Linked DNA regions of Homo sapiens. The protein of the gene in region 7 purifies or fractionates together with the protein of the main gene of each other region. This does not show direct contact. Each region holds a gene or a part of one and is shown on either strand. Other genes may lie near its edges. The genes, in order: CDC42BPG, TCF7L2, TTF2, ARMCX5, HELZ, IQGAP3 and CRYBB3.

The links.
Region 1: the proteins of CRYBB3 (region 7) and CDC42BPG purify together in Homo sapiens (affinity purification with mass spectrometry; one large-scale study listed by BioGRID and IntAct). This does not show direct contact.
Region 2: the proteins of CRYBB3 (region 7) and TCF7L2 purify together in Homo sapiens (affinity purification with mass spectrometry; one large-scale study listed by BioGRID and IntAct). This does not show direct contact.
Region 3: the proteins of CRYBB3 (region 7) and TTF2 purify together in Homo sapiens (affinity purification with mass spectrometry; one large-scale study listed by BioGRID and IntAct). This does not show direct contact.
Region 4: the proteins of CRYBB3 (region 7) and ARMCX5 purify together in Homo sapiens (affinity purification with mass spectrometry; one large-scale study listed by BioGRID and IntAct). This does not show direct contact.
Region 5: the proteins of CRYBB3 (region 7) and HELZ purify together in Homo sapiens (affinity purification with mass spectrometry; one large-scale study listed by BioGRID and IntAct). This does not show direct contact.
Region 6: the proteins of CRYBB3 (region 7) and IQGAP3 purify together in Homo sapiens (affinity purification with mass spectrometry; one large-scale study listed by BioGRID and IntAct). This does not show direct contact.

The regions. Positions count from the first base shown.
Region 1 is NC_000011.10:64,827,641-64,831,170, forward strand, and holds part of CDC42BPG (serine/threonine-protein kinase MRCK gamma), read right to left. Parts: intron 2,708-3,530; coding exon of another isoform or gene 2,638-2,707; exon of another isoform or gene 2,617-2,637; coding exon 2,554-2,616; intron 2,431-2,553; coding exon 1,831-2,430; intron 144-1,830; coding exon 46-143; intron 1-45. UniProt on the Homo sapiens protein: May act as a downstream effector of CDC42 in cytoskeletal reorganization. Contributes to the actomyosin contractility required for cell invasion, through the regulation of MYPT1 and thus MLC2 phosphorylation.
Region 2 is NC_000010.11:113,163,234-113,165,729, forward strand, and holds part of TCF7L2 (transcription factor 7-like 2), read left to right. Parts: intron 1-2,321; coding exon 2,322-2,496. UniProt on the Homo sapiens protein: Participates in the Wnt signaling pathway and modulates MYC expression by binding to its promoter in a sequence-specific manner. Acts as a repressor in the absence of CTNNB1, and as activator in its presence.
Region 3 is NC_000001.11:117,105,296-117,107,953, reverse strand, and holds the end of TTF2 (transcription termination factor 2), read right to left. Parts: 3' UTR 501-2,658; downstream 1-500. UniProt on the Homo sapiens protein: DsDNA-dependent ATPase which acts as a transcription termination factor by coupling ATP hydrolysis with removal of RNA polymerase II from the DNA template. May contribute to mitotic transcription repression. May also be involved in pre-mRNA splicing.
Region 4 is NC_000023.11:102,598,269-102,602,316, reverse strand, and holds the start of ARMCX5 (armadillo repeat-containing X-linked protein 5), read right to left. Parts: upstream 2,803-4,048; 5' UTR 2,470-2,802; exon of another isoform or gene 2,458-2,469; intron 1,398-2,457; 5' UTR 1,285-1,397; intron 854-1,284; 5' UTR 808-853; intron 438-807; 5' UTR 176-437; coding exon 1-175.
Region 5 is NC_000017.11:67,238,687-67,242,216, forward strand, and holds part of HELZ (probable helicase with zinc finger domain), read right to left. Parts: intron 804-3,530; 5' UTR 747-803; intron 1-746. UniProt on the Homo sapiens protein: May act as a helicase that plays a role in RNA metabolism in multiple tissues and organs within the developing embryo.
Region 6 is NC_000001.11:156,569,766-156,574,025, forward strand, and holds the start of IQGAP3 (ras GTPase-activating-like protein IQGAP3), read right to left. Parts: upstream 2,801-4,260; 5' UTR 2,765-2,800; coding exon 2,728-2,764; coding exon of another isoform or gene 2,713-2,727; intron 1-2,712.
Region 7 is NC_000022.11:25,202,853-25,205,383, reverse strand, and holds part of CRYBB3 (beta-crystallin B3), read right to left. Parts: intron 1,622-2,531; coding exon 1,489-1,621; intron 165-1,488; coding exon 22-164; intron 1-21. UniProt on the Homo sapiens protein: Crystallins are the dominant structural components of the vertebrate eye lens.

The DNA.
Region 1 (3,530 bases), on a different chromosome or scaffold from region 7:
CGCCTCCACCCCCGGCGCTACCCCAGGGCTCTGGCGGACCCTCACCTTCTTGAGCGGCACGGTCTGCACCCATTCTGCCCTCCTCACGTCAAACACATCGATGGAGTTCTCGCTGAACACTGTCAGGTAGGGGGCCGCATACCCTGCGGGCACGCCAGGCACCTCTGAGCTGTTTCCCCCTCTGTTCCACAGGGAACACCTTGTCCCCTGCCACAGCACAGTAACTACCATGCCCCACGCTAAGGTCCTTCCTCTGAAGACTCCCTGTCGCCCGGCCCAGCCTCCACATCAAATCAGAGATAACCCTGGACCACTCACCACATGCCTGGCTCAGTTCTAAACACGACATGCTTTTCCTGCCTTAATTTTCTAACAACTCTGAGCAAGTACTACTGTTATAATCCCTAATTTCCAGATGAGGGAATGGAACCCCTGGAGCCATGTGATGGTCAAGGTCAGGTCACTCAGCTGGTCCTGAGAGCTGCGATTTGGCCCTGGGCAGCTTGGGTGATATGCGGCACCCAACCTGCAGGCCCCACCCCAAAGAGCCATTGCTCACGAAGGACACTCTGCCCCTCTCTTCCAGCCCTTACCCATCATGCTAGTTACTTGTGCATGCACCAGACTGCCCCACTGCCTCATTCATTCATTCATTCACTCTTCCACTCATTCCTCCAAGCCCATCGCCCCTGGAGTGTGCCACCCTGGGCTGGGGGCTTGATGTGGATGAGGAAACCAGCCCCGGCCCATTCTGTGGGACCCCAGTGCACCAAGCCAGTCATGAAGTGGAGGCGATGAGAGCCGTGACACAGGTCTGGACGGAGAGAGAGTGGGGCAAAGAGAAGGAAAGGACCAATGACGGGGAAGCAGGGCGGGGAGCACGAAGGCAATGGTGACCACAGCAATCGCAGCGGTTATCTTTGGAGCGCCTACCAGCTCCAGGCCCTGAGCTGACACTGGGGTGGTACCTAGTTAAGAGTTTGCCAGGTACAGGCCGGGGCCGGTGGCTCACACCTGTAATCCCAGCACTTTGGGAGGCCGCGCGGGAGGATTGCTTGAGTTCAGGAGTTTGAGACTCCCAGCCTGCGCAATATGGCGAAACCCCATCTCTGAAAAAATACAAAAATTAGGCTGGACGCGTTGGCTAACGCCTGTAATCCCAGCACTTTGGGAGGCCAAGGCAGGTGGATCACTTGGTCAGGAGTTTGAGACCAGCCTGGCCAACATGGTGAAACCCCGTCTCCACTAAAAATACAAAAATTAGCTGGGTGTGGTGGCGTGCACCTGTAGTCCCAGCTACTAGGGAGGCTGAGGCAGGAGAATCACCTGAACCCGGGAAGCAAAGGTTGCAGTGAGCCGAGATCACACCACTGCACTCCAGCCTGGCGACAGAGTGAGACTCCTCTGTCTCAAACAAAACAAAACAAAAATTAGCCAGGCGTGATGGCACACACCTGTGCCCCCAGTTACTCGAGAGGGTGAGGTGGGAGGATCACTTGACCCCAGGAGGCGGAGGTGGCAGTGAGTCGAGATTGTGCCACTGTACTCCAGCCTGGTGACAGACAGAGACCCTGTCTCAAAAGAAAAAAAAAGTTTGCTAGATAGAAACAAAAGGAGAGCGGCTCAGGCAGGAGAGGAGCATGAGCTCAGCCATGGAAAAGGAAGGTCCCCTGCAAGCCACAGAGGGTGGGACAGGGTGTTGTTGGGCTGGAGGATGCAAACTGGCACCAAAGGCCTCCAATGCCAGGCTCATGAGTTGAGGCGGGACCCTGTCTTCACCCACCCACTGAAGGTGCCTGGCCCCCCTGCCAAGCCCTCAGCAGGCCTTACCCCAGCCCATGGGCGCTGCTGGCCACAACAGCTCGTGGCCACGAGACTTGCGGCCTGCGCCATCCACGTAGATGCCAGCAGTGGTGAAGAGTAGCAGGAACTCGCTGAGGCTAAGCTCCACGGCACCCAGTGCCTCACCCAGGCCCCCGCGGGATGGTGGCAGCTCCTCAGGCACCAAACCGGCCCCCAGCGCCAACGGCGCAGCCTCGTTGAGCAGCGGGTAGAGTGCAAAGCCACCGGCGGCGCCCACACATAGCCGGTCGCCCAGCAGCCCCAGGCTCTGCACAGTGGCAGGTGCCTGCAGCTCACGGATGCGGCGCTGCCAGGGCCCAGGGCCCGGGCCCAGCTGGTAGCAGAGCACCTGGCGCTTGACGGCTACACAGAGCACCGGGGTGCGGGCCTGCAGGATGCTTCCAGCTGCCAGCACCTGGCAGCCTCGAGACTCGGGGATCTTGGCACCTGCTACCTCTATGTTCTCCAGCTCCGCCAGGGCAAAGAGACGCACGCTGGGGCCGCGGCCACACAGCACGACCAGCAGGCCTGCACTGGGGCTCAAGGTCAGCTGCTGCACGCGCCGGCACTCCCCCACCTGGAAGATGTCTGCAGGGTTGGCGAGGGGAGAGTGTCACTGGCAGGTGGTTGAAGAGTGACCCATCCCCATCCTCCTCTGCCCGCTGGGGCTGCCCCTGCCCACGCCCACCCTAGCCCAGCTTTGATAGGTACCGTTGCTGCGCAGATGGATGACAAAGAGCCCCTCCTCGGTGCCAAGCGCAAGTCGATCCTGGTCTGGTAGAGGGAGGCAGAGGGTCAGAGGTCAGCAGTCCCACTCAATGACACGGAGATTGGGCAGTCCACCTGCCCTGCTGTGCCTGTTTATCTTGAGGAAATGGGGGTGGCAATAATCCCGCTGTCCCTGCCTCACTGACCCTTCTCTCCCAGTCTGGACAGGCTTTTCCAGAGGGGTTGGGGTGAGGCCCATCATCTTGAGCTGTGGGATTTTGGGTAAGTCATGTCACCTCTCAGAGCCTTGGTTTCCTTATGTAAACTGGGGACAACGATGGTACTTCCTCACAGAGCAACTCTGAGGAAGCGAGGAAGTGATGCAGGGGAGGGTTCAGCAGAGCCCCTTGCTCAATAAATCCCCTCCCCTCTGGTTCCCGACTGCTCCAGGGACCCGCACAACCTCTCCTGTGTCTCCCGCCCTGAGAGCCGGGCCTGGCTCAGGGCCTCAGCTGCTGGGGAACGCCAAGGAGCTCTGTTTCATGCCTCTTTCCCAGCCTTAGTTACAGAAGAGCCCTGCTGAGCCCCAGGTTCAAGGCTGAGCACAAGTGAAGCTCTTCGCAGCTCCACCCAGGAGATGTTATGAGGCTCTGGGTGGTTCTACAGCAGCTCCCCCAGTCCCCCAGCTTGTAGTGAGACAGCCAGGACTGAACCTTCGTTTCTCTCTTTCTAAAGCCTTTGTTCCAGCTGGGCACGGTGGCCCATGCCTATAATTCCAGCACTTTGGGAGGCCAAGGTGGGTGGATCACCTGAGGTCAGGAGTTCGAGACCAGCCTGGCCAACATGCTGAAACCCCGTCTCTACTAAAAATACAAAAAATAGCCAGGCGAGGTGGTGCATGCCTGCAATCCCAGCTACTCTGGAGGCTGAGACAGGAGAATCGCTTGAATCTGGGAGGCGGAGGTTGCAGTGAGCTGAGA
Region 2 (2,496 bases), on a different chromosome or scaffold from region 7:
ATGCTCCTAGCCAATCAGGGCTTCTAGCTTGCCACACAAGGTTTCTAGTTTCATTTGACATTTGTGGACATTTTAACAAGATTCTGTTTTGAGCCCACCAAGTTGCTTTTCCCATCTTTTCACTCTGCCCTAATATAGCATGGAATGCTGCTTGGTGCTGTTCCCTTGTCTTCCTGGTTGTTCTCCCTGCTTCTTTCTTTCTCCCTTTCCTTTCCTCTCTCTGTTTTTCTCTGTTGCTTTCTCAGTTTTGCTTATGCCCTCCCCCTCCCCACCTCCTTTCCTTCTCCCATTTTTAAAATGCATGGACATCTTAGTTTTTTGAGCATGTTTTGATCTGCAGGCTAAGGTGGTTTAAAACTCTGAGAGGCTTAATTATTTATCTTGGTTTCTGGGATGGAAGCAGAACCCATAGTCTATTTACTCTCTCCCAGGGAGAAAAAGGAACCTTGCCAAATTGAGGGTGAGAGGGGGTGGTGCTTGCTCCCCTAGAGTTCCTTCTGACCCAGAAGGAACAGACAGACCCTGAGGCCACTAGCCCCCATGAATCTCAGCCTCTGGGAGGCAGGGAGGACTGAGCATGCTCCCTTACACCCCTCCCCTCCTTCCCTGCCTTCCTGCCATCTTGCTGAGTCCAAACCCCAAGCACAGAGGGGCATGATCAGACAGCTCTGGGGCACAGACTGAGAGGAGGAACTCAGCACACCCTTCCTTTCCAAGGCCAGTGACATTGTCTGACAGTGGTTGCCTTCAAGCAGGCAGCATCTTGGTTGCTTCCAGCGGCAGAAAGCTGGCCAGTGCTTACACACGTGTTTCCAGTTGGAGTGTTATCAGCCATGGTTCTGACAATATTCTAGGGTCCTTAGATGAGCACACTTCCTGTATCTGCATTATTTTTATAGCATTAGTGGGGTTGATCCCCAGGCTCACCTTTCCTTACCAAATACCATCCCATCAGACTGGGATTAATGGGAGGAGAAGCTTTGAAGTCACATGCTCAATTTCTTGAGTTGATTTTCCCCGACCTCATCCTTTGATGCTAAGCAAGAAGGGCTCTGAAATTCTCATTCCTATTTCTTACATGAATGAGTAGTGAAGAGGGGAGATGCTGGTTTTGGTGCAGGGCAAAATTAGTCTTTCTGGTTTAAACACGAATCACGATAACCCAAACCCAGGAAGGTCCATGCTGCGATTCCCTGGCACTTCTTCTTTGTAGTCACTTCGGTGACCGGCTTGTGCTGCACCCTCCATTGACTAGCCTTGGCATATTGACAAGAGCAGGATGCCCCTCCATCCATCCCATCCTCACCATCTCTCCTTCCAACCTTCTCACTACGGGGTGGGGGAGGGGAAAGCCCCAAATCTTAAAAAAAAAAAAAAAATCAAGTTTGAATCTTAATTTAATCCACAACCTGCAGGCCATACAACCAGTTATTCTCGTTCCTTTGAATCATTTTCTGTTTTTCTTATTCTTCCCCCTCCCCCACCTTTGTTTATCCTCTTCTACCTGTTTTTGGTGGTTTCTTTTTTTTGTTTCGTTTTTTGTTTTTTGTTTTTGTTTTAAGTTTATTTTGTTTTATTTTTGTTTCCCTTCCTCCCTTCTCACCTGATTCTGACCTCTCTTGATTTGGTGTGGTTCTTAACAGACAAGCCCGAAAGCTCTCTGGGCGCCAGCAGCCTCATGGTGGTGGTGTGTTAAAACCTTTAAGCCTCTTGCTAGCGCTGCCTTCAGCTATGTGGGCTCAACAGTGAGCATTTTGAGAGTTTCATATTGATACGAGGCGGCTGGGGAAGGAGCTCTGTCTTTCTCTTTTAAACACACACACACTCACACTCACACACTCACACACACACATCACTGGGGGATGGGGGTGGTAGTGGTGGGAATGGGAGTGAAGGGCCGAGGAAACTTGATGGGAAAGTGAGGGACTGTCTAAGCCAAAAGAGCTTTTCAGTTCTTCTCAATTTGGACAAAGCCACTTTTTGGCAAATAGATGCCACCATCTGCAGGTGGCCGCCTCCATGCTGCTCTCGTATATAATTTGGGCATGGTGGGGCATGGGTGTTTAGTAGGGGTTGGGGGAAGCAAGTAGAGAGTTCAGACTCTTAAATAAGTTGTTTGCCAGAGCAGGCTTAGATCTGGGCACTGTGAAGTAAGCGACCCACCCTGGGGGGGCGCCACTGTAATTGTCCTCGGACCACTGGGCGTGCCACCTCTGTGGGACATCCCTTAGGTGACCTCAGCTTGGGTGTGAGCATTAGGTAACTCTCTCCCTTGGCATCTGTGCCCTCTATTCACAGATAACTCTCTCCCCTGTTTCTAGGAGAAAAAAAAAGTGCGTTCGCTACATACAAGGTGAAGGCAGCTGCCTCAGCCCACCCTCTTCAGATGGAAGCTTACTAGATTCGCCTCCCCCCTCCCCGAACCTGCTAGGCTCCCCTCCCCGAGACGCCAAGTCACAGACTGAGCAGACCCAGCCTCTGTCGCTGTCCCTGAAG
Region 3 (2,658 bases), on a different chromosome or scaffold from region 7:
TTTGCCATGTTGCCCAGGCTGGTCTCAAACTCCTGGCCATCTCAGCCTCCCGAAGTGCTGGGATTACAGGCCAACATGTATATATTCTGTTTGTTGTCTGTCCTCTCATATTAGATTGTAAGCTCTATGAGGGCAGGGATATTTTTAAACTACCATACTGTCCCGATGTAGGACAGTTCCTGGCACATAGTAGAGACTTAATATTATGATCAGTGAATAAAGATCTAATTGGTAGAATTTTTAGTTTGGATCTCCTTGGTATCTGTTTTTATAAGCCAGACTTCCCTTCTCCCGAACCTCAGTATTTGTCATTTAAACAAATACCACTTGGAAAAAAAATCAGCCTTATCTCGAGTCTGTTGGATAAATTATATGCACCTGAGAGACCAGCCTTGAATTTTCCAATTACCTCATACATCTAGGGAACTGCTTCCCATGAAGAAGCCTGTTGTATTATATCATCTATCCCCATGTGCCTTTTAATGAATCTGATTTCAGAATTGAGAACAAAAAGCTTACCATTTATTTCAGTTGGAGGTTTCAGTGATTGGACAACTTTATGTAGATGAAGTAACATTGCAATAAAAAATTTCCAGAAGACATCTAGGTTCTGGCTAATGTGTTAGCCTTTAAGCAATATTAATGGTAACAATTCTGTTACAAATATTTAAAGTTTGTGTGTGGGTGTTGGGGATTGGGGGTGCTGTCTCATGCATGCACTACAGTGGAGTCCAAACTCAATTTAACTGAGCTGTCTTGCCTGCTGAAAGACCTGGCAGAGTCAGTGATCAACAGAGCCCAAGACTCCAAGGTGAGGCAAAAAAAGAGTGGGAGGATTTAGGAGCTGTCCCCAGTGTAACAAAGTGCTTCAGAAATCACCTTTGAATTGTGAGCATTGAAGCGTCAACAAGATGCAGCATTATGATGTACGTTATGCCTCTGGTGTTACAGGTAAGAAAAAAGAGTCACAAATAAGAGCCTCTGTCCTCTGGGATGTTGTAACAGGATAAACACCTTGGCTGTCTTGGATAATAAACATACACATACCTGTCAGCCCACCCATACTCTAATGTCCCAAATGCAATAGTTGCTCAACTTTCCTCCAGAGAATGTATCCCTGTATGGTAGGTTTGGCTCAATGAAGAGGTGGTTCAATGAAGTGGATGCTCATTAGAAGCAGGCAGTATAGGAAGAAACATCTCACTCTGACTTGTGAGCTCTTACATATTGATTTCCATTCTTTCATCACTTCCTCAGATCTTCCCTAACTAGGTCAAATCCTGTTATAAGCCCTCCCAGCCGCACAGTCCTCTCTTGTAGCACTCAGCATCATGGCTGATTCACAGCCACACGGGGTTGACTAATGCCTGTCTCCCTTAGATGCTAAGCCTCAGGAGGACAGGATAGTTTTTCATTTTTGCTTACTTTTATATTTCCAGTGCCCAGCAGTGCCTGGCATATAAAAAGTGTTCAATATACATTTCTGAATTACTGTGTGGATAATTAAGCAAGAAAATAGTCTCATCCTTTCTGAAGTAGTCTCTACCTATTAATACATCTGGATTTAGCTATGGAATCTGGGTAAAAAGAACTCAAGATAGTAAAAACATTGTGTAGCTGCATATCTGTCGCCCCTCTTCCCTCCCTGGGAGTTAGGCTGGGTTTGCTTTTTTTTTTTTTCATATCTATCTCCATCCCCTAACTACTGACTTCTGTGGTAGTTTGTACTATAAATGACCCTGATTTCATTTGTAGTTATGAAGACATTTTAGTCTAGGTCATATGCCTAGGAATTCTGAATTTCTATTATAATTCTCTTTGTGCCTACAGATGTGCTTTTAAATTGTTCCTGCCCTTTCCTAAGTCTAGATGCTATATCACAAACAGCAGCACAATATCCCACTTTGGAAACCTAATTCTTTCAAGGTATTAGAGTTGACAGCAAAATTTCAGACAACCAGAGGCCACACTGAACACTGGTGTCTCCATGCTTATCCTATTAGTGCAGGAGAATCTGGCTTCACCTTTGAGCCCTGCTAAAAGCCATTTCATTGAGCAACAGACAATCAGAGCAAGGAAACAACTCAGTGTTCATGAATTGCCATGCTAAATCACTCACAGGATTGATAGAGAAATAAGTCACCTCCCATAAACAGAAAATTTTTTTTTTCTGTTTTTCCTTCTTTTCATTAGCAATTGTTCCAAAAACACTTACTCTGCTAATTTCTGCTAGAAAGAATCACCGTTCTTTCTCTGTGGCCCAGGCTGGAGTGCAGTGGTATGATCTCAGCTCACTGTAACCTCCGCCTCCTGGATTCAAGTGATTCTCCTGCCTCAGCCTCCCGAGTAGCTGCAATTACAGGCACCCAACATCACGCCTGGCTAACTTTTGTATTTTTAGTAGAGAGGAGGTTTTGCCATGTTGGCCAGTCTGGTCTCGAACTCTTGGCCTCAAGTGATCTGCCTGCCTCAGCCTCCCAAATGCTGGGATTACAGGTGTGAACCACTGCGCTGGGCCTGCAATGGGAGTCACTGACAAGGTTTTTAAAGGGCCCAGGACTCTGTCTAGCTGCGGCATGCACAATACTCCTATTTGATCAACATGGCTAAGGCAAAGTCAAACTACATACCTTCCATGAAGTCAATTCTGTCGAGTAA
Region 4 (4,048 bases), on a different chromosome or scaffold from region 7:
TTGCTCCATCACCAGCTTTGGCCTGGGTCACTGATTCTGTTTTCAGTTCTGCCTCAGCCACTGCCTCGGCCTGGGTTTTACCATTCACTCTAGCAGTGGCAGGACCACTGATTCCATCTTGCAGGCCAGCCTCAGCCTTTCCTCTAGCCCTTGCTTCTGTCCCAGAGTCAACCATGTTCCAAGTTTAACGTAAGGACAAGTTATATACCCCCACCCGTCTCAGCCTTGACTGAAGTTTTGTCCCGGTTGGTGTTTTCACACAAAGTCCAGTAGTCACTCTGTCCCCTTTCCAACTACAGGCTCTGCCAGTGATATAGAAAACATGCAGAGGAAGCTCACTCAAGGTAGGGAAGGATGGCTGTGCATGGGCCCAGCCCTGTGGAGGGTGGTGGTCTTCAGCCACTCCAAGGCCACCAGATCTGCCACTGAAGTAGGACCTAGGGGTGGAGGAAGGAAATGGGGCTTTGAGTCTCTTCCAACTTTTTTCTCCTCATGCTGATCAGCACAGGGAGACAGGAGAATATGGTGATTCAGTGCTAGGTGAGAGAGGTAGATAATTAGCAAACTCTCTCTCCCTTCATTTCACCCACTCCCTACACTTCCAAGTGCCATCAGCCTTCTTTCCAGTCACCAAACAGGAGCATAAGGAGTAGGAAAACTGGATGAGAAGCTGAGGAATCCCTTTAGTGGTTCTTGACCCCTGCTGGAGCCAAGCAGCTCTCCACTACTCCATCCTACAGGTCTACCCAGGCAATCCCCACACTCATACCAACCTGCACTGATCTGGAGTAACTTTCTCCTCCTTACCTTGCTTCCAATGGTGACAAGCCCTACAGCAGATCTACAGGCAGACCTATGGACAAATAAACAAACAGGAGAATGTGGAAACTGATCTCCTGGTGACAGACCTTGGTCCCTTGCCCTTATTCTTGCCTTTCCAGATTTTGTCTAGTGTTTCCCTCCTCCTATCCCCTCTCCCCCACTGCTTTGTTTCAGGGCTACTCCTCCTCCTCCTTCCTATTGCCCACCATCTTCCTCTTCAGTGATTGCCCTAGAATGTCCCTCGTTCAGATTAGACTAGGTTCAAGCGTGAGAGCAGGACAAGCAGTGGAGAGTGGGAAAGGCAGCTTAGCATTCTGTACCCCCACAACTTACCAAGACTCCCAACTAAATCAGCAGCAGCAGGGGGTGGGGCAGATGGGAATAATTGGTAAAATGACAAAACAGAAGAGATGGAATTCTCTAGTCGAAGTTGCCCCCCTGTCCCTGTACCTTTACACCAACCTTAACAGATACAGGGCAATTTTCTCTTCTTCGTAATTTCCTAGTTTTAAGTTGGGTGACCATTTTACAAAACTTCACAACTGACAGTTCCACAGACCTGGGGACAGATCTACCTACAGGGATTCACAAAAACAGAGACCAATAAATGAAGACACAGGAGACAGTTGAGGCTGTTTTTGGTAGAGACCAGCACCTAGGGCACAGTTTCTTTCTGGATATAAGTACCTGTTTGGCAAACATTTTCTATCTCCCCTTTTTCTCCCACTCCTAAATCTCCAAGCCCCTCTGCTCTATTCTCAAAGTCTGACAATTCCTATACAGAGACAACTCAAACATCCCTACAAGGTAGTAGTAGTGGTGTTAGTAGGGACGAAATGCCTAGACAAACCACGGAGGCTGGGGAAAAAATGAAAAGTATTTATTTCCATATTTCATCTGGGTTCCTATGTTTCCTTCCTCTCTCCCAAAGCCTATCATTTTCTGCAACATAATGCGGGTAAGGGAGGACATGTTAGGAAAGCTGGCAGAGAGTTCTGGAGGCTCCCTTACACTCCTGCCTACTCTAATCTTAGCCATCTACCACCTCCAAGTACTGCCTCCCAAGTACTGCCCACTCTGTACAAACCAGGCCAATTTTCTTTTCCTTCTCCTCTCCCCTTGAGGTCTGCTGTCCCCTACAGATCTTTACAGAAACATGGAGTGCTGCAAACTTAGGAACAGATTTACACATAAAAACGCGTGATACACACCCAAAGAACAAATGAAAAGACAGAGAGAGAGACGTGGTTATTAATGGTCAGACCAGTAACCAAGACATGAGACCCTTTTCAAATCCAGAGCCTTGATTATCAAACATTTACAACCTCTTTTTACATTCTCTCCCTCTCAGGGCTCCCCAGACAACTGTCCTCGCCTGTGGAAGTAGCCCTCTCTTCCTCATCTAGTCTGCCTTTTCCCTGCTAGAAGCTGCAACCTTTTTCTTCCCAAGCATGGTCTGAGGTGAACCGAGTGTATGGAAATCAAGCTAGCAAAAGGTAGATCATTTTTTTTTAATTGTTGTGTGCCATTCCAATTACCCATCTCTCTCTCCTTCTCACCGCCCGCCTCCCATGACCAGGTCGCGTATCCAGTGTTCACCTCTGATACCCACATCCACCCCCAAGCGATGCGCACCTTCTCACTGACCTTCTCTGCTTGGATCAGAGGCAGTTTTCTTATTTCCTTGCCTCGAGGTGCTGTGTCATACAGCAGCAGGAACAGACAGTCAGACACAAGGACTCGAGGCAATGGCGGCGGCTGTGTATGGGGATTGACTCGGCACCTGGGACTCAAGACGAGATAACCGCTTTATCAGATTAAAGACTGCGATTGGCAAACTGTTGTCACTTTTGGTATTCTTTTCTCCTTCCTGTTCCCAGGGCTCCTCAGAACCTCGCGCGTAGTTACCATTTAACATCTACCTTTTCCTCCGCAGACGAGGTTCTTCCACGTCCGCGTTACCCACAACGGCAGTGGGAGGAGCTAGAGCGTAGTTTATGGGGATCCGGCTTATGGAAGCGGAGTGATATCAGGCTTTGTTTAGCGCCGCGACTCTTTTCTGTCGGAGGGCTCCCTGTCCTGTACCCTGTGGCCGCTTCAGGTATTGGAATGCGCAGGGACGAATTCCGGATATAGGGAAAACGGCGCTGGAACAAGAGAGGCAGACAAATACCAGAGTGTTTCTGTATTAGTTCCCCTTTTGCGGGAGCTCCCCCCACCAAGCCTACCATTCTTTCCTGAACTGAAATGCACATGGGTTTCCAGCTGTGGTGTCAGGAAATCTCTTCTGGCCTGACAGGCGGAAGTGTTCCAGTCTTTCGAAGTTCGTTCTCCAAACACAGAGGCCCACTGAAATGGGCGGTCTCGGGGTGGGGCCCAGGGTAGGAAAGTCAGCAAAGAGAGTCAAGACTGAGATAGGAGGATACATACTAATCGATTCCACAAACTTTGTGTTCCTTCGAGTCCTCCCTCCCAGCCCTTAATTTTCATTTTCTTTTTTTTTTTTTTAAGTTCTAGGATACATGTGCAGGATGTGCGTGTTTGTTAAATAGGCAAACGTGTGCCGTGGTGGCTTGCTGCACCAATCAACCTATGACCTAGGTATTAAGCCTGGCATGCATTAGCTATTTTTCCTAAGGCTTTCCCTCACCGCCCCCCACAACCCCTGACAGGTCCCAGTGCGTGTTTTTCCCCTCCCTGTGTACATGTGTTCTCATTGTTCAGCTTCCACTTATAAGGGAGAACATGCAGTATTTGTTTTCTGTTGCTGCATTAGTTTGCTGAGGATAATGGCTTCCAGCTCGATCCATGTCCCTACAAAGGACATGATCTCATTCTTTATTATGGCTGCATGGTATTTCATGGTGTATATGCACCACATTTTCTTAATGTTATCACTGATGGGCATTTGGGTTGATGCCACGTCTTTGCTATTGTGAATAGTGCGGCAATGAATATACGTGTGCGTGTATCTTTGTAATAGAATGATTTATATTCCTTTGGGTATATACCCAGTAATGGGATTGCTGGGTCAAATGGTATTTCTGGTTCTAGATATTTGAGGAATTGCCACACCGTCTTCCACAATGGTTGAACTAATTTACATTCCCACCAATGTAAAAGCGTTCCCATTTCTCTGCAACTTTGCCAGCATCTCTTGTTTCTTAACTTTGTATTAATTGCCGTTATGACTGGTGTGAGATGGTATCTCATTGTGATTTTGATT
Region 5 (3,530 bases), on a different chromosome or scaffold from region 7:
AAAAAAATAATAATAATTTTAACTCTGATGCCTCATAAGGAAAGTATTAAAAGCCTTCTAATTTATTTCTGTAGTATTACCATTTTCTAAGTGTAATAATGAAAGACGAAGACACCATAGCTGACCAAGAAGATTAATTACTGTGAAATAATAAATACTCAAGACTAAACTGTTTTTAATTAACAGGTATTTCAGCAAAAAGTAAATAATCTGAAAGACTAATAGTATCAATAGAGGTAGTACAACCACTAGGAAAAAAAGTTCAACCTTTTGTTTCTATTGATATGTTCTCCATATTTAGATCCTCAAAACTGCAGATATATACAGTCATTCATGACACTATGTAAATAGCAGATAACAGGAAAAACAATTCAATACTTAACCAAGTTCACTGGAGCACAAAGTAATCGCCACTCAAGAATGCTGACACAAAAACTGAAGGACCTCTCAAGTTCCAATAGCACGCAGATAAGCTGAGCCCCTATGCAGTTACTCATCTGAACAGAAGTGGAAGATTAACCTACCCTCACTCATTTCACACACTAACCTGACAAGGCAGCAGGCAGTCTCTTCGGAGCTTGTTCATCATTCAGTCTGTTCCAGAAGTAACCGATTCCGTTAGGATCTGTGCCTTCAGGTTACCACTGTTTCACTACAGCCCTGTATCACTTCACCCTTGTCCCACCTTATTCTTTCAGGCATTATAAAATTCTTGTTTTCTAAATAAAGTTCTAAACCTTACTCACCTGCAGTTCACTGCACTGGGTATCACCCAAATAGCCCATCAGAGCTCTTTATAATTTCTGAAAGACAAAGAAGAAAGTTTTTTTAATACATAGTAGAAAACACCATTCACCAAGATATCAGTTCCAAAGCATTTGTATCCAATATTCCCAGCATATGGTCTTTTGGTCCACACTAGTTCAATAAAATGTAGCATGACCAGCACTAGACCAAGAGTCTTGAGATAAGCCTCCAAAGATTAAAAACAAGCTTGGTTTAATGTTGCTACTACTGAGCTGTGTGACCTTGAGCAACTCATTTAATTTCTTCAGGCCTATATTTCCTTATCTGGAAAATAAGTCACTTAGACTAGCTAGAGAAAGAAGAGCACAGGCTTTCCAGGAAGAACACCAGCTCCACTACTTTACTGGTCTCGTGACGTTACATTAGTTGAGTCACACTTAAGCCTGAATTTCTTCCTTTGTAAAATGGAAATAACTATCTCGTGAGTTGCTATGAGAATTAAAGGAGATGATGAGTTATAAAAAGCCTATAGTAAATATACTGTGCAGCTTATCCTAAAATTCAACAGATGGTAATTCATTACTACCATTAACCCCCACCAGCCCTAACATTACATGAATTCAATTCATGCATATTTCTTTTAAAAGATCAACAAATCAAAACTTTACCAACCTGACTAAAGAACTAACTGTTTTCATGTTTCACAATTCAAATTACAGTTATCTTAAGCTGATGGTAGTTTATCATTATTACTTATCACAGAAAATAAGAACAGAATAGTCCCTGCACAACATCCAAACTCTGGTTCAATGACCATGCCTTTTCTGACTTCTCACTCTACTTCCACACTGCCAGAATATCTCAGGAATAGAGAGGTCTTCCAAAAGCTAAATGACACCCAGCTGTTTGCCAGATTCAGCTCAAGGGAGCAGGACTAGAGACAGAAGAAGAACAGAGGCTTTTCTTTTTTTTAACCTTTTTTACTTTACATAAGTACTGCTCAAATTTGTTTACCATAAGCATACAGGAGTTTTGCATAAAAGTAAATAATTTTTTAAAACTGTATTAGTTAAACACGTTGCCTACTGACAGGAAGCTCGCATTATAGGACATTTTCATCACAACAAAGATAATTTCTGCAGAAGGAAGCAAAAAGGCAAATTCAGATGTGACAAGAACACCTAAAATATAGCACAGAAATGACAAAAATCACAAACATTCACACTTCAGAATAGTTCAGTCAACAAAGATGCCATGCATTCTTTGAAGAACCTGACGATGAATCAAGTTCTTTTTTGTTCAAAGACAAGATATATGTATACACTCTGCTTTACCAAACAACTTCCTGCTCTTACTTGGAGAAACTGACCCAGTACAATTCACAAAAGTAAACAAGTTGGTATGACTGTTGGTATTAGTTGAAAAACTTTCCATTTCTTTTGAATAATTAAAAGTTGACCAAAATAGTTATTACATGTATATATAAATAAAATTCTTCCTGTTACATCTACAGTGGTCTTTTAAAAAGAGGAATATTCACTTCTAACAGATTCAAGATTACTGAAAACTATTATCCCAGCCACCCTCAAAGCAATAAACCATCATGTTATATGCTGCTTCTAGCCAATGCTACAGAAGTAACCCTGACTGCACTCATCAACTGAAATGAATGGTAAGATAGTATGGCATACTCTCCACTTGTATCACTTTTCTTCTAGAAAACATTTCAAAACATTACTTAGAAATCCAATTACATCTGCATGTATATTCACCTAAGTTTATGAAAATTAAACCTAAAAATTTGCTTATAATTTTTTAAGTAGTTCCTCCCCATCTCTTGGATAACTGTTGTTGATACACCTGGCCCGAAATCTTCTATACATTTGAAACAACAGGCAAAGGTCCTTATTTCTTGTATGGGGCCTGTATTTGGATCTTAGGGTCTCTGACAGACAATTATAGACTAATCTACATTCAATATTAATGCCAAGCCTACTGCTTAAATAGAGAACACATGCATCTGTAAGATCTGGGCTACTTACTTGTAGGTCCCTCTGCACTATTCTTAGCCTTTCATGAATATGCTGTAGATTTTTTAATTACACGAGGCCCTTTGCAAGTAAAAATGACTTTTCCTGTTGTTTTGGCATCACTCCTCTTCCAGTGAAAACTGGACAGTCTATAAATATATACCAACTTTAAGACAATGCATTTTAATATCTATGGCATTAGAAAATAAAACTTCTTGTTAACAAATGCAATAATCAAGTTTACCAGCTAATAGAAAGGTACTTACTCCCAAAAACTACAGCCTTACCTAAAAATAGTGTCCTAGCTTCCCAGCCAAAAGGACAGACTAAAAAAGCTCTGTCTTTATTCAGCTCAGAGACACAGACTTCTACCTCACCACAACCTTCAATACTATGGCATTTCCCATTTTAGAATACTTTGTGTAACAAGTTGTTCAGTGGCCAACCACTAACTTCGCTTTGAAATGAATACTAACACTTCACAGAGTCTACATGTGTGAGAACTGTGGAAAATGTCTTGACACAATTCAGGTCAAACAACACTAGCCACACAAGATTACCTACTTCTAAGTATTCCATTTTAGACTACAAACAAACATCTCCACAGTCAAAAAGCAGACCACTGGCTCCTTTCCACAAAATTATCTGTAGGCTTCAAGAAAAAAGATAAGGCCAGGCATGGTGGCTCACGCTTGTAATCCCAGCACTTTGGGAGGCCAAGGCGGGCAGATCACCTGAGGTCAGGAGCTCGAG
Region 6 (4,260 bases), on a different chromosome or scaffold from region 7:
GCCTTGGCCTCCCAAAGTGCTGGCATTACAGGCTTGAGCCGCCACCATGCCCAGCCGAAACATCTTCTCAACAGACTTGTTTAGGCAACCCTGCTCAGAGACCTGAAACATCTCCCATGTGTCCCTCCTTCTCTTCCCAGGATACCCTTTAATAGGCAGCCTCCTCCTGTGCTGGAGGCATTACTTCTCTTTCCTCTGTAGCCATCTTCCTGTCCTCTTCCTCCTCAAGTCTACTCATGGAACTTCCCTCAGTACCTCCCAGCTGGGACATCCAGAGCCTTCCTTGGCTTGAAACTTAACTCCTTTTCTTATCCCTAATTAGACTGAGTTCTCCAAGAACTGGACCTGTGTCATCCTCGTTGGTTACTCTCTCAGAGGTGAGGTAATAGAACCAACCAGAATTCATCATTCACTCATTCATTCATTCATCAATACCTCCTTTATGCCAGGCACTGGACTAGCAGACCCCTACTCTTAAGAAATGCAGAGATAAAGGCCTGCATGGTGGCTCATGCCTATAATCCCAGTACTTCTGGATGCTGAGGTAGGTGGATCGCTTGAGCCCAGAAGTTTGAGACCAGCCTGGGCAACATGGTGAGACCCTGTCTTGACAAAAAATACACAAATTAGCCTGGTGTGATGGTGCAAACCTGTACTCCCAGCTACTGGGCCTAGACCTGAGCCCAGGAGGTCTAGGCTGCGGTTAGCCATGATCGTGCCACTGCACTCCATCCTGGACAACAGAGATATTGGTGGGTTTGTTTTGTTTTTGAAACAGGGTGTCACTCTGTCACCCAGGCTGGAGTGCAGTAGTGCAGCCTTGACCTCCTGGGCTCAGGTGATCTTCCCACCTCAGCCCCCCCACCACCAAATAGCTGGGACCACAGGTGCGCACCACCATGTCTGGCTAATTCTTGCGTTTTTTGTTGAGACTGGTTCTCACCATGTTGCCCAGGCTGGTCTTGGACTCCTGGGCTCAAGTGATCCTCCCGCCTTGGCCTCCCAAAGTGCTGGGATTACAGGCGTGAACCACAGCGCCCAAAGATTATTATCAGAAGAGAAAAACATCTGAATAAATTAATCTAACATGATAAGTATGATTATAGCCCATGCATAAAATCTATGGGAGCAGCAGAGGAAGCAAAGGATTCTAGCTATGAACTAGATCTTAAGGAATAAATAGGCGGAACACAGGGAAAGGCAGTCCAACAGAGGGAAACATGCCACTCACTTGGGATTAAGTGGAAGGACAAAGAAAATTTTAAAAGATCACAAAGGTATCTTCACTATCCTTTTTGGTATAGGTCACCCGAGGAGGAAAAGAATCTTCAAGCTAAATAAAATACAGAGTACTGATTCCAAAACTCAAGAATAGAGAATCCCTCAAGTGAGACAGCAATCATAATTTGCCTTAGTTACAGTCTCCCTTAATCCTTCTCCCTTCTCTCCCCTCTCTCTATTCTCCTTAGAAACACAATACAAAATCAAACAGAAAGAGTAAGAGAAAGCTACACACACAGTAAGAAAATAAACTCAGAGAGCTTGAAAAAAGGCAGAGCTTAGCCAATCTGTCTTTGACTCAGCACTTAATGTCATTCCCGGTTGTTATCCTATTTCCTTATATTGCATATTCTGCAATGATTCAGGGAAGGGCAGAGCTTATATGAATGAGCAGTTAAGTAAATTAAAACACATGCGTGCACACACACACACACCCCTCCAAATACAGATTTGAAAACACTGGCCAACCACAGGAAAGCCATCAGTTCCTCCAAGGGGGTGTACAAGGAACAAGTGTTGGTTGTTAAGCATGGAAAATAAACCAGTAAGTGAATGACATCATCTCAGAGTTATGAACTGAGGACTGTGGGCGATGGGAGGGATTTTGTACATACACATGCTGTCTCAAAAAAATAAAAAACCGAAAAACAGTTTTCCTGTCCTTCTCAGGTCTGGAACTAGTTTTCCTTTAACAGAAGACTGGACATGGACTTTGCTCTTTGAATCCTAATAGAAAGGAAGGGAGTGGTGGAAGGAGCAGGTTTTCCTTTCATTCAGAAAATCAGATAGAACCTTTCTGCCCCACCCATCCTTCCAGCTCCAGTCTCTCTCTCTAAAACAGTGTCTTTGAAAATGTGGCCCAGGGACTACCTTCCTCACAATCACCTGGGGTGAGGGAAGAAGCACAGCAGTGCTTGTTATAAATGCAGATTATGGGCCCCAAACCAGACCTTCTGGAACTGAAGCTCTGGGACAGGTCCCAGGAATCTGCATCTCAAACAAGCTTCCCGGGTAATTTCACCCCCTGTTTGACAGGCATTGTCTGAAAGCGGCATCTCAAAGCCTAAGAGTCCCCCAGATCCCTTGAGGCGTCTTGTCCGGTGGCATCGCTGGGCAAGTTTGGTAGCCAGCAGTAACTGCTGAATTTCAAGGAGCCATTAGGATCACCTACATTCTCCCGACTCCGGAACCCCAGAACTTGGAAATAGGAAGAAAGTTCTTTGTAAGCTTTAAAGCGCAGCACATTAGTCAGGGGACAATGCGCCGCTCACAGTTCCACTCGGGCCCACGGCGCCCGGGCTGAGGATTCCCGTCCCACTGAGCAGTCCCACCGCCCTCGCCCCTCAGGCTTCACGCCCGACACACGCCCCAATCTCTCCCGGGACAGCCAAGCCCCCGACCAGCGGCACCACTGCGAGACCCTTCTCTGACCCTCTCCGCACTCACAGGCTGCCCAGCCTGGGCCCGCTGCTCTCCTCTCCATGTTCCTCCTTCTTCCAGGTTTGAATCTCCCGCCGTTGGGCCACCGCCCCTCACCGTCGGCACCGCCAGACAGGACACTTCCCGTCCACACCGCTGAGAATCCTGGGATTTGTAGTTCCCGGCCGCGGAGCCGGGCCGCCCAGGTGCTGGGAGAAGAGGCGCCCCAGGCCGGGGCAGTACCGCTCCCCTTACAGCAGTTCCTCGTCTTGTTCCTTCCAGGCTCCTTTTCTGCTTAACAGTCTTATTCTAGCTGCTGCCCCTGCCATTGCCTCTGTCATCTCCACCTAGTATTCCCATTAACCCCTACTCTGCTTCCTATGTGTTCCCGAGTCCGGCTAACTTGTGGGCCTACTTGGCGCTATGCACTAAGCTAGGTGATGCGAATGCAGAGATGTATGAGGGCAGTGAATGCTCTAAAAGAGTTTGCTGTTCTGGCACAAGTGATAGACATATAGTCAAATAAATTAGAGGTCGGTGATGCACAGAGGGAGGGGGTCATTGCTGTGAATAAGAGCAGCGAATGACAGGGAAGACGTCCTGGTGGAAGTGACAGCTGATTTGGGTTGAGAAGTGAAAGAGAATTCATCAGATTGAAGAAGAGAGGCAGTGCAGTCAGTGGAGACAGCATGTGCAAGAACGAGGAGGTGAGTTCGGGAACTTAAACTTGGTTCAGTTTTAGAGGAGAACAAAGCTCAGCCAGGGAGAGGCCAGAAGGGATCCTGGAGGCACAGGGCCAGGTCCAGTAGCACCTTGGGCACCATGCTAGGGCCCTGGCATGGGGTCTGGTGAGCAGTCACCAGCCAAGGAACACTTTAGACATAGGTCAGAGCCAGATTTGTCCTTTAAAAAGAGCCATCTTATAGCAGGGGATTGGAAGGGGGTGAGGCTAGGGGCAGAGACCAGTTGGAAGGCTACTGCAGTAGCACAGAAGAGAGATAATAAGAGCCTGAACTAGGCCAGGCACGGTGGTTCACACCTGTAATCCCAGCACTTTGGGAGGCGGAGGCGGGCAGATTAACTGAGGTCAGGAGTTCAAGACCAGACAGGCCAACATGGTGAAACCCCATCTCTAGTAAAAATACAAATATTAGCCAGGCGTGGTGGGGTATGCCTGTAATCCCAGGTACTCCGGAGGCTGAGGCAGGAGAATCGCTTGAACCCAGGAGGCAGAGGTTGCAGTGAGCTGAGACTGTGCCACTGCACTCCAGCCTGGGCGACAGAGTGAGACGCCGTCTCAAAAAAAAAAAAAAAAAAAAAAAAAAGAGCCTGAACTAATAAAAAATAATTATGACACCAACAACTATGCTGAAAAAATATTATCTGATAGGTTTCCCCATCTTGTATTTCTCCTTTTACCCTTTCCCCACACTCCATCCAAACAACCAAGCAGCCTAGGCTTATAGCTTGGGCAGGTAGGAGAGGAGAATGTGAAAGAACAGAAAACAGAAATCCATACCTAGAGCCTTCAGAGGAACAGAGGAGACTCAGGGGCTGAGA
Region 7 (2,531 bases):
GGTGAGGGTTGGGTCCCTTACGTCCCGTTGATGGCACGGACACTCGCCACACGGTCCTGGAAGCCATGAGCCCACAGGCTGGGCACGTCATCATCCACTATCTCCATCTTGCGGCCACTGAAAGCTGGGTTCTCAAACAGATGCAGCTTGTGATGTGGACTATCCTGAGGGCAATATCGTGGGGTGAGCGGCTGCTCCCATATCCAGAACAGAGGTCAAGGAGGCTCCAGATGCCGGAAAGAATCAACAGGTCACCACAAAATAACACCCACCCCCAAACCTGCTGCAGGAGGGAAGGGCCTCAGGAGATGCCTCCACCCCCAAATTCACTGTAGGAGGGACGGGGAGATTCCTCCAAAGCTGGTTGATTTAGGAACCTAGAGCCGTAGATTATAAAACTGAAAAGGAATTTCCAGATCTTGTTCAATCCCATCATTTAAATGATAGAGAAACTGAGGCCAGGAGAGGGTGGACAGAGATCAAAAGTATCAACATATGAGCTTTCCCTCTTTCCTAACCAGATGCCGGTTTAATCTTCCCAGTTTCCCCTCTTCCACTGCCCTCTAAGGAGGACTCAGTTATGTGACAAAGAGAAAGGGCTGGAGCAGCTGCGGGGTGTGAGTGAAGCAGGGGAGGGAGAAGGGTGGTGTTTAAAGTGTCACTGTGGGCCGGGCGTGGTGGCTCAGGCCTGTAATCCCAGTACTTTGGGAGGCCGAGGCAGGCAGATCACTTGAGGCCAGAAGTTCAAGACCAGCTTTGCCAACATGGCAAAACGCCACCTCTACTAAAAATACAAAAATTAGCCCAGCGTGGTGGCATGTGCCTTCAGTCCCAGCTACTCAGGAGGCTGAGGCAGGAGAATCACTTGAACCCAGGAGGCAGAGGTTGCAGTGAGCAGAGATCATGCCACTGCACTCCAGCCTGGGTGACAGAGCGAGACTGCAACTCAAAATGAAATAAAAATACATAAATAAAAATGTTTAAAAAGAGAGAGAGAGAAAGACTGCACTCCAGCATGGGTGACAGAGCAGGAGTCTGTCTCGAAAAATAAATAAATAAACAAATAAATAAAAAGTGTCACTGTGGACTGTGTCCCTTTCAGGTGCTAGAAAAACACAAGTGGAGAACTTAAAGTATTTTGGCTACTTTCTGAAGTTATTTCCTGGACTGCATTTCTTTGATAACAATACTGATTTGAGACTGGGCCATGTGGCTCATCGTTTTAGTACGGTTACAAAGAAAAGTCCCAGTGCTATGCTGGTTTAATTCAAGATGTGAGTCCTGGTGTCTCAATCCCCAACCGAATGTCCCTTCAATATCCCACTTCTTGTCCCACACAATTGTTCAAATCAGAAACATGAGGGCCCTTCCCAGGCCAGGTCCATATGGGCCAAACCCTCAGCCCAGCTTGTGCAATGAGCTGCCTGACCAGCTCTCAGTGCACCCTGCTTCCAGGAACACCCAGAAGTGAGCAGGAACCACACTCACAATATTCAGAGGCCGGAGGGACAGAAGGCTGTCACTATCACGGCTGTTGGACCAGGCATCCCAGCGAGGATAATCCCCCTTCTCCAGAACAAACTGCTCCCCGCGGAAGGCCCTGGACTCAAATGCCAGCCACCTGAGGGAGGAAGAGGCTTGGCTGGGTCACCTTTGCTGCAGCTGAGGAAGGATTCAAGTTTAGTGAGAGAAGTGTCCAAGAGCTGCTGACCTTGAACCTTGTACCCTCCCTCCAACCCTACTGCTAATTCCTGGACCTGTAATTAAAGGAGCTGCTAGGACATACCGGGAACTGTCTGAGACTCTGGGCCAGAAAACCATCCTAGGGTATGTTATTGAGAATCTAGCCTCTGTGCAAGGTACCCAGAAAAGTCTTTAGCACAATGCCCGGTACACAGTAAGTATTCCATAGGTGACAGTGACTTCTTCCTCTTCCTTTTCCTCTTCTTTGTATTGTATTGTTATTAATATGTATTTATTTGCATCATTCCATTCATTTTCATAAAAACTCTCTCTGAAGTACGTACCATTGTTATCCCCATTCAACAGATGAGAAAACAGAGGCCTGGTGTGTGAAGCAACTTGCCGAAGATCACCCAGATGGTTAGTGCCAGAGCCTGGACTTGCAATCCAAAGGCGGGAATTCAGGGCCCAGCTGGGAGACCTGCCTGCCTTGTGGACATGGATGGGACACTTACCAACTTTGGCCTCAGTTTCCCCATCTATAAAGTGGGAATAAGAATGATACCTCTGTCACAGGGTCATGACGATTCAATGACATAATGCATGTTAAATTTTAGGTGTTACAATTATTATTAAAATTATAAATATTAAATCCCATGTTCCAGTCACTGAGTTAGGTGCTAGGTTGACCTTGCTGTTCTTCCAACCTCAGGTATCCTGGGATTTTCTGCAGACATCTAGGATTCTAGAGAATTCTTCAACTCTCATTTTACAGATGCGGAAAACGAGGCCAGAGAAGGCAGGGGAGCTGTCAAAAGCCCCACAACAGATCTAGAGCTCAGACTGGG